3 linked regions of the Homo sapiens genome follow. The gene in region 1 interacts genetically with each later gene. Each region holds a gene or a part of one and is shown on either strand. Other genes may lie near its edges.

Region 1 (3,260 bases):
CGGGTGGAGGGCCTCTCTTGGCATCAACCATCCACGACCTCCTACGGCACCATCTCTCCTGCCAAGTTGCCCATGGGGGTCTCCAGGAAGAAAACCAGCCTTGGGGGATTCCAAGGCCCAGGGAGGGTGGGAAGCTGCCCACGCCCTCAGGCTGTGCCCAGTCTCATGCTCACCATTTCTTTCTATGGCCAAAGGGAAGTCGCTGGACGAGGGAGGTCCCTCTGCTGGGATGAGCAGCACAGCACGGCTGGGGCCCCAGGTCACAGAAATGGGTGCAGGGATCCTGGGACCTGGGCTGGATGGGCACCCGCTTTGGGATTTCCTCTGCTTCAGCCTGTGTATGGTCCAGGGAACAGTGTAGGAAGGGGCGTGGCATGGGGTGGGGCTGCCATGTCCGGGGCTTCTGCGTAGCCCAGCAAAGATGCTACAGGAGGAACAGGAGGAGAGGGCTGGGAGGGGTCTGGGGGAGGAGGAGGAGATGGGGCTGCAGTGAAGGCCTTGCTCATTGCAGGGGGTGTGGGAGGCCAGGCAGGGTCACCTCTGGCCCTGCAGAAAGAGGGACGGAAGTAGGCGGGCTCAGGCCTGCGCCTCCAGGGCACACACGTGCACACTGGGCAGGCAGAACCAAGAGGGTGGCAGCTCCTTGCTGGTGCTGTCCTCGTGGAACCGGATGTGGAGGAAGAAGTCTCCCGTGTAGAGGAAGAGGAGGGCCCCGAGGCAGGCCGACTGGCCGGACGGCTGCACCTGAGCAGGGAGGAGAAAGACACATCAGTCTGGTCAGCAGCAGGGGCCACCCAAAGCCACCAGGAATCCTGGGAATCTGCCTGGACATAGGTGTTATGGGGGAAGCGAGGGCCGCCCAGGCCTGGCTCCAGTGCCCCCTCCAGCAGGTCACTGCGCCTCTCCGAGCCAGTTTTCATCTTGGAAAGGAGCTGCCAATATTCCCATTCCTGAATTGTTTGGGGGCTCAGGGGGTCAGGAGTGTGGGAGGGTCAGGAGTGTGGGAGGGAGTGAGGGAGAGGTTGGGGCAGAGGGGAATGGAATGTTAGCCTGTGCTGGGGCCTGACAGTGAGGTGCTGAGAGGCAGCTTGAGAGGTAGGAGGTGGGAGGTGGGGGCTGAGGGCGTAGGGCTGGAGCCTTTCCGTGGAAGGAGCGGCAGGCACGGGATGGGTGACAGTGACATCACAGTGATGCCACAGCAGGGTCCAATCATGGAGCAGCCCCCTGTCCTGGGCACAGCTCCCATTCCCTGCACATTTTCCTGCTTCACCAACCCTGAGGGCCTCACTGTCCAGGACTGAGAGACAGGTGAGCTTGTCTAAGTTCCTGCAGTGAATGGGGCAGACTCAGACTCAGTGTGCACACGTGACCACAGAACCCCTGCTGCTATCGTCTGCTGGACATATGCTGACCCCAAAGCCCACCACCCAGGGAAGGGGGGATGATGACCACATGGCCAGAGGCTCCCAGACCGCCTTGCACACCACCACGCACCGCGTCGAGGTAGAAGGTGCTGGAGCCCACGAAGGAGACGGTGTCGTGCAGGTCGTAGTTGTGCACGCCGTTCTGGTGGTCCTGGAAGGGGACCACAGTGAGGGCGAAGGGCCCTACGCTGCGCGGGCTCCGGTTGGTCAGCCGCACCTCCAGGCGCACGGGGTCGCCCACCTGGCAGGCCGCCACAGCCTCGCGGTCACATGGCTGTCCGTCCACCAGCACATCTGTAAGGGACACGAGACTGTCGGGGGCTGGGCTGGCCTGCACGGCCCAGCCGGCCTACCCCACCCACTCGCTGATTCATTCATTTCTTCCCTCCTTCACTCTTCAAGGCTGCCACCCACTCCCTGCCAGGCTGGACACTGGGGACACAGATGTGTGACCAGTTCCTGGTCTCCGGAAGAGGAACCTGGCAAAGACGGGTGTGGTGGCTAGAGCTATGACTCAAGGGGTCTGCACCCCAATGGAGGGGCCTCTGGGAGGGCCTCCTGCCACAGCCCACCTAGAAGGGGAGGAGCTCTCTAGTGAGTCAGGGACTCCTGTCCAGGTGAGAGTCTGACACCGTAGAGGCGAGGGCGTGGAAGGGGCCCTACAGGCCCTAAAGTGCCGCAGGTCAGGGGTCAGGTGAGCTTTGGGGCACAGGCAGGCCCGAGGTCCCTCTCCTCCAGTGGCTGCAAGACCACACACCCCAGGAGGTGGTGTCTTGATCTCGTTCCCCAGGAGGAATGCACAGTGGGCTCCAGCACTCCCTATAAAGTGGCTGCACTGTGTTTTCTTCATTCTGTCAGCCTGTCCAGGGTGCCTGACACACAGCTCAGCACAGAACAGGTGCTCAGGGAAGTGGCACGGTTCTGGGACCCGTGGACCCTGCCAGGCAGGGAGCTGGTCCTGGGCGAAGGAGCATGGATTCATCTCCTCTTCCCTTCCTTGCTTACATGCCCCAAGAGCTTGCAGACAAGGAGGACGCCTCCTAACTGGGCAGCAGCAAGGAAGGAGGCTGAGGTCAGGGTGGGGTGGGGGCGGAGAGAGTGTGCCCTCTCTCAGGGAAGCGAGCTGATGATCAGGGTGGCAGGTTTCATGGTGATCCCCAAAAGATACGTGAGAATGTGACCGTATTGGGGAAGGGGAGTCTTTGAAGATGTAATTAAGTGAAAGGTCCCGATAGGAGCTCATTCTGGATTAGAGTGAGCCCTGTAGTGAGTGACAATGTCCTTATATGGGGCAGAAGAGGAGGAAGCACAGACAGAGACAGAGGCTGAGACTAGAGGATACGGGCAGGAGCCAAGGAGCCCTGGGTGGCTGGAGCCCCTAGGAACTGAAGGAGGGAAGAATAAGCCCCCAGAACCTCCCATGGTCCTGCAGCACCTTGGTCTCAGCCTTCCTGCCTCCAGAACTGAGAACACACATCTGTTGTTCAAGTACCCAGTTTGTGGTCGTTCGCTGTGGCAGCCCTAGCAGGCTAAGATGTGGGGTGGGGGGCCCTTCCTGCTGGGCAAAGGCCACCTGCTGTGGCCCTGTTGTGGAGGTCCTGGAAGTGGGAGGTCCCGCAGCCTGCAATTTGACTTCATGTCATCCAAGTACAAACTGCGTGGCCCTGGGAGCCAGCCTGAGCCCCATGGTCTGCCGTGGCTGATCCTGTGCTGTGGGCTATCAAGGCAGGCAGGTGGAATAAGGATGACATGATGGTGACACGCATAGGGAGAGCAGGTGGGCCACAAGAGCACTCCCACCCCTTCTGCCCCTTAACACAGTCACGGGCATCCTGG
Region 2 (3,500 bases), on another chromosome or scaffold:
AGGACCCTCTGGGGATAACAAAATCTATGGATGCTCAAGTCCTTTATATAAAATGGCATAGTACAGATGATCCCTGACTTACAATGGCTCAACCTAGATTTTTCAATTTTATAATAGCGTGAAAGTAATGTGCATTCAGTAGCAACCGTACTTCAAGTACCCATACAACTATTCTATTTTTCGCTTTCAGTATAGTATATAATAAATTACATAAGCTATTTATATTTAGTATAAAATATGATTTGTGTTAGGTGATTCTGCCCAACTGTGGGCTAATTTAAGTGTTCTGAGTACATGAAAGGTAGACTAGGCTAAGCTATGATTTTGGATAGGTTAGGTGTATTAAACACCTTTTTGACTTACGATATTTTCAAATTCTAATTGGACATAACCCAATCATGAGTTGAGGAGCATCTGCATTTGCATATAACCTGCACACATCCTCTTGTGTATTTTAAATCATCTCTAAATTACTTGTAACATCTGATACAATGTAAATGCTATGTAAATAGTTATTATACTATAGTTTTTATTTGTATTTTTTGTTTTTTGTTTTTTTTTCAAACATTTTTTATCTGTAATTGGTTGAAACTGTGGACATGGAACCTGTGGATATGGAGGGCCAACTGGATTCTCTTTTTAAAAAATATGATAGTTTGTTGGTTTTACCAAAAATATAAATGGTTTGCCTCTCAGTAGATAACATTTATCTTTAATAAATTCCCTTCCCTATCTTTTAAAGATCTCTTTTCGAGCACATATACCGCCATTGGGACTGAAAGTGTATAAGATTTTGGAATCAGCAAGTTCAAATTCACATTTAGCTGATTATGTCTTGTATAAGAATAAAGTAGAAGATAGCGGAATTTTCACCATAAAGAATATGATAAATACTGAAGAAGGTATAACACTAGAGAACTCCTTTGTTTTACTTCGGTTTGATCAAACTGGACTTATGAAGGTATGTTCTGAATAGTTCTAAAATTCATAGAATGCTTATCATTTTTGCTACAATGTGTGTAGATTAATTAGGCAAAAGGGGAAAAAAGTCTTAAGTAGAGCTGTATCAAATACTCTTGAGTAAAAGGAAGCATGAGCTTTTTGCACCTTCATTGACCACTTGCTGCTCACATGTATAGTCTGTGGGTGGCGCTACTCCGTGGTCTGTGTGTCACTGGTCCACCAGATAAGTACAGAAATTATTTTTTTAAATTGTCATATACATAGAACCAGATGCAACATGCTTAACATCTTAGTGGTGAGTTGCTTATTATTATTTTTTTTAATCTTTAGCAAATGATGACTAAAGAAGATGGTAAACACCATGAAGTAAATGTGCAATTTTCATGGTATGGAACCACAATTAAAAGAGACAAAAGTGGTGCCTACCTCTTCTTACCTGATGGTAATGCCAAGGTAAGTGGTACTGATGAGATGACAAATGGAATAAACACTTATTGAAAGAGTATTGAGGAAAAAGATAAGTGAGTGTCATTATTTTATCATCTGTTGATTTATTAGGGATAGATGAACTTTTGGTTGCAGTATTATCTATCACCTTATTGATACTTAGCAATTTGTAGTCGAAAGTTAGATAAATGGTTGGGCGCAGTGGCTCACACCTGTAATCCCAGCATTTTGGGAGGCCAAGGAGGGTAGATTGCTTGAGCTCAGGAGTTCAAGACCAGCCTGGGCAACATGGCAAAACCCCTTTTCTACAAAAAATACAAAAATTAGGCATGGTGGCCTGCACCTACAGTCCCAGTTACTCAGGAAGGCTGAGGTGGGAGGATGGCTTGAGCCCGGAAGGCAGTTGCAGTGAGCCAAGATCACGCCACTGCACTCCAGCCTGGGTTGACGGAGCAAGACCCCGTTAGATAAATAGTTTTTTAGAGTTGGAATTTGTTAAGATGCTACAATGAACAATGTTCAGTTAGGATAAACAATGAACATGGGAAGAAACTAGATTTTACGTAGAGTTAGGGAGCTTTATATGTATGCATTTTATACAGACACAAAACCTCTAGCCGTATGGGAAAAATAGATTTTCCACTGGACCATTTTTCTCCTTAACTTTCAGCCCTTTAAAAAACAAATCTTTCTCACTCTTGACTATAAAGGTAGTAATACGCAAACTCTGGCACATTTTGAAAATGCCAGAAACTAAAGAAAACATTAAAATTTACCAACAGGTGCACAATCCCATGAAAACCATTGCCAACATTTGGATGTATTTCTTATTGTCTTTTATTTTATGCATATCCTTTTCTCCCCGTTCTCAAGTCTTGACTTATTGCATGTACATATTTTGTTTTTCATTTGTGACAGTGCTCACAATCTGATGGTATGTTTTTTAAAAATCCAATTTTAATATATACTGTTGTGTTTAAGATGTTGCTTATATTCTTTTTCTCCCGATTCTTCACTACCATAACATTGTAATAAGCTTTCTTTGTAGCATTCAAAAAGAATGCTACAATGCAATTCTGATTAATTGCTGAGAATAACTTTCTAGAAGAGTCATTTTGTATCAGTGTCTGAAGTCTTTTAAGGACTTTTGCTGTGTACTGCTTATCTTCCCTCTAGAAAGACTAGGTAAATGTTCAATCCCACCAGCATTTTTTGAGATTAACTCTAAAATCCCACTCCAAGCACTGAGAATTGGCCATATTACAAGCTTTGCCTATAATAGTAAGTTAGTAGAAAAATATTTTTCTGTTAAGATTTTTGTGGTTACTAGTAAGGTTGAACGTTTTTGTACCTTCATTTATCTTTCATATTTCTTTTGTGATTTTCCTATTTCTATTCTTTGACTGTTTTTCTGTTGGTGTGTCCTGATGATCTCTGAGCACTCTATATGTGGTAAAATTAATCCTTTTCCCTATATGTTGTAAAATTTTTCTTATTGTGTCATTTAGTTTGTTAATTATTTTATTGTATTTCTCATTTATAGTGGTTTTAAATTTTTGTGTAGTCATTTCTTTTTTTTCTGTAGAGTTTCTTCCTTTGCTTTTATACCTTTATAGGTTTTCTATACCTCAAGATCAGTGAAATGTTATCCTAATTATTGTCTTGTTAGCTAGGGACCTATCTCCTGAAAAAGTTACTTTTGTTCCACAAGTTATGAAACCTGCTAACTAAAATCCAATACTGGATTTTAAGGGATTGTGTAGGCTACAGTAAGGACTCTAGGTTTTTTGTTTGTTTTTGTTTTTGGTTTTTTTTTTGGCTGTTTGGGGTTTTTCTTTTTTTTTTTTTTTAAGTCAGTGAAGAATTAAAGACAAACTACAACTCATATGAGGCATTCCAGGATGGGCAGTGAGTCCCAAATATGAGCTGTTTCAGTGTTTTCTCATTCACCAGCTTTTGTCATTGGACATTTTATTTTGATTGACTGTATTTATACTTAAAAAAGTAGTTGTGCTATAGAATTTCATGCGTAGATACCAATAACTAATTTATTTAAAACCATTTTATCTTTAAATAGCTCTAATGTCAGA
Region 3 (3,500 bases), on another chromosome or scaffold:
AACAAAAAAAAAGTAAATGTATATGTACTAGAAAAAAACAGAACACAAAAAACACCCTTAGAGATTTTAGTTGTTTCTTCCCTTCCTCTCTTTTTCTTTTTTTTTTTTTTTTTTTTTTTTGAGGCGGAGTCTCGCTATGTCGCCCAGGCTGGAGTGCAGTGGCGCGATCTCGGCTCACTGCAAGCTCCGCCTCCCGGATTCGCACCATTCTCCTGCCTCAGCCTCCCGAGTAGCTGGGACTACAGACGCCCACCACCGCGCCGGGCTAATTTTTTGTATTTTTAGTAGAGACGGGGTTTCACCGTGTTAGCCAGGATGGTCTCGATCTCCTGACCTCGTGATCCGCCCGCCTGGGCCTCCCAAAGTGTTGGGATTACAGGCGTGAGCCACTGCGCCCTGCTCTTTCTTCTCTTTTTCTTTCCTTCCCTTCCTTCATTCCTTCCTTTCTTCCCCTTCCCTTTCTTTTCTTTCTGACAAGTTCAGTTCCTCTGTTGCCCAGGATGGAGTGCAGTAAAATAATCATGGCTCACTGCAATCTCAAACTCCTGGGCTTAAGCAATCCTTCCACCTCAGCCTCCCCAGTATGTGAGATTGCAGATGTGCACCATCATGCCCAGTTCATTCTTTAATTTTTAGTAGAGATGAGGTCCCAGTATGTGAGATTGCAGATGTGCACCATCATGCCCAGTTCATTCTTTAATTTTTAGTAGAGATGAGGTCTTGCTATGTTGCCCAGGTTGATCTCGAACTTCTGGGCTCAAGCAGTCGTCCCACCTCAGCCTCCCAAAGTGCTGGGATTACAGGCATGAGCTACCATGCCTGGCCTGGATTCTTTGATTTTTAAAGTTCCAATTAATGAACTGTTGGGCTAAAGATGAAAAACCAGGCTAAGTAACCTATATTGATAAGCAGACATTCCTAGTTCATGTTATGAAGGAAAAACAATGGCGTCGATTTATCAGGACGTGGAGACGGGAGAGGAGAGGAGAGGGAGGCTAATTTTTAAAAACTTTTTGGAGAGACGGGGTCTCGCTGTATTGCCCAGGTTGGTCTTGAACTCCTGGACTCAAGTAATCATTCTGCCTAGGCTTCCCAGGCATGAGCCACCATGCCTGGCCCATCCCCCCACACCCCCAATTTATAAACCATTATTTCCCATTAACTAGTCTTGTCAAAGGTTATCACTGGACTTTTCTGTGAAGGTTTAGAAAATTCCCTGGTTCTCGCCAGGCGCGGTGGCTCATGCCTGTAATCCTAGCACTTTGTTTGGGAGGCCAAGGTGGGTGGATCACCTGAGGTCAGAAGTATGAGACCAGCCTGGCCAACCAGCATGGCAAAAACCCATCTACTAAAAATACAAAAATTAGCCTGACATGGTGGCAGGCACCTGTAATCCCAGCTACTCAGGAGGCTGAGGCAGGAGAATTGCTTGAACCCGGGGGTTCAATCAAAGAAAATTCCCTGGTTCTCTAAACATGGAATTACTGAAATCTGGATTTAGGTTCAAACCTGCCTCTTGGGCTTTGCCTACTGCAGTAGCTCAACAGTTCTCTGGCTAAAAAATAAAAATCAGTGTGTAATTCAAGTTCAATTCATTTAATAAATACTCAAGTATCTACTATGTAGAAGGCACTATACATGGGGTTTTAAACAACTCGGACTACCAGCTTATTTATTAGTTGTGTGACCTTGGGCAAATTACTTTTCTACGACTCAGTTTTGTGAAACAAGGATACCACTTCTTAGTTTGTAGGACTGTTGTAAGAATTAAATGAAATGATATATTCAAAGCACTTGGAACATAGCAGGTGCTCAACAAATGTTAACTGTGACCCTCTGCCCTTCCCCGCAAAGAGGACTTAAACCAAAATAAACCTTTGTTTAAAATAATCCATATTTGTGAATTTAGGCATAAAAATACCCACAATTAAAGGACTTGTCAACTAGTTTTTGTTGCAGATTATAACTAGTATTTGATTTTTGGTCTGTATAAAGTAAAACTCTTGCAACCTGGAATCCATCAAAATTCAACCAGTCCTGAGTTGCATTTGATTGATTCTGCAATAAACTACAATAGAAGGGTAACTCTGCTAAGTAAATAGTACAAATAAAATAGCAAAGGATTGTTTACCACATTTCCCTACCTGAGACAATACACTCTTGAATAAATAACACTTTTAAACTACTCATTTAAAAATAATTTCCTGTTTACCTAAAAGTCACAAGAGTAGTATATTCTTTACCTGGACTCCGTAATTGTTAATGTATCGTCCTGTGTAATTTATTATTCTCTCTGAATGCACACACACAGGTATTTTTTTCCCCTGGACTATTTGAGAATAAGTTACATAATTCATGCTTCTTTATCCTTAAATCCTTGTTTTTCCTAAAAACATGGACATTCTCTTATAAAGCCAGCAGAGTTGTCTACTTCAGGAAATTTAAGTGACCTCGCCAGAGGCTAAGACTCGTGACTCCTATAGTGGTTGAGGAGAGATAGTTGCCTGCCTGCTGGGTGGGAACCTGGGGATCTGATTACTTGGAAGACTTCCTAGAGATCCTCGTCTTTTCAGCTTCTCATTCCCCTCCTGAGGTGTTTCCAATTCCTGAGCCTTTTTAGGACTCTAGGTCCAGTCAATTGACCTTTCAACCACAACTCTCACTGTAGTCACTTAACAAGGCCAAGGAGGCGCAAACCAAAGGCATTTACCATTCTTCCGTTTCTTCCTATATTGTGGTCTTTTCATTTCATAACAGAATTTAGTTTTTATTTTGTTCTCCTTATTTGTTTGGAGGAGTTATTAAGTTAGAAAGCAGATAACAAAATAGTCCAGCAACTCGATCAACAAAATTTTCATTTTTCATTGGGCATCTTTTGTTAAAGTAAACTGTATCTATACATAATCATTCATATACATTGAAAAGAAACCAGAAGTATGTATACCAAAATGTTGTGGTTGGTTGGTTCGTTTTGAGACAGAGTCTCGCTCTGTTACCTAGGCTGAAGTGCAGTGGTGCAATTTCGACTCACTGCAACCTCTGCCTCCCGGGTTCAAGCGATTCTCTTGCCTCAGCCTCCCAGGTGGCTGGAATTACAGGCACCCGCCACCACGCCCAGCTAATTTTTGTATTTTAGTAGAGGTGAGTTTTCGCCATGTTGGCCAGGCTGGTCTTGAGTTCCAGACTTCAGGTGATCCACCCACTTCAGCCTCCCAAAGTGCTGGGATTACAGGCATGAGCGCCCAGCCTGTTTGTATTTTGAGACAGGGTCTCACTCTGTCGCCCAGGCTGGAGTGCAGTGACACGAACACAGCTCACTGCAACCTCAACCTCCCACCTTAGCCTCCCGAGTGGCTGAGACTGCTACCACGCACCATAATGCCTGGCTAATTCTTTGTATTTTTTGTAGAGATAGGCTTTTGCCACGTTGCGGAGGCTGGTCTCAAGCTACTGCACCTGGCCTCAAAATGTTAACAGTAGGGCGCGGTGGCTCACACCTG

The links.
Region 2: changes in TRAPPC9 (region 1) and MAN2A1 together harm fitness more than expected from each alone (negative genetic interaction), as found in Homo sapiens cells (one large-scale study listed by BioGRID).
Region 3: changes in TRAPPC9 (region 1) and SLC30A5 together harm fitness more than expected from each alone (negative genetic interaction), as found in Homo sapiens cells (one large-scale study listed by BioGRID).

Annotation. Positions count from the first base shown.
Region 1 is NC_000008.11:139,730,485-139,733,744, forward strand, and holds part of TRAPPC9 (trafficking protein particle complex subunit 9), read right to left. Parts: intron 1,719-3,260; coding exon 1,495-1,718; intron 745-1,494; coding exon 577-744; 3' UTR 1-576. UniProt on the Homo sapiens protein: Functions as an activator of NF-kappa-B through increased phosphorylation of the IKK complex. May function in neuronal cells differentiation. May play a role in vesicular transport from endoplasmic reticulum to Golgi.
Region 2 is NC_000005.10:109,818,927-109,822,426, forward strand, and holds part of MAN2A1 (alpha-mannosidase 2), read left to right. Parts: intron 1-742; coding exon 743-961; intron 962-1,293; coding exon 1,294-1,416; intron 1,417-3,500. UniProt on the Homo sapiens protein: Catalyzes the first committed step in the biosynthesis of complex N-glycans. It controls conversion of high mannose to complex N-glycans; the final hydrolytic step in the N-glycan maturation pathway.
Region 3 is NC_000005.10:69,097,014-69,100,513, forward strand, and holds part of SLC30A5 (proton-coupled zinc antiporter SLC30A5), read left to right. Parts: intron 1-3,500. UniProt on the Homo sapiens protein: Together with SLC30A6 forms a functional proton-coupled zinc ion antiporter mediating zinc entry into the lumen of organelles along the secretory pathway.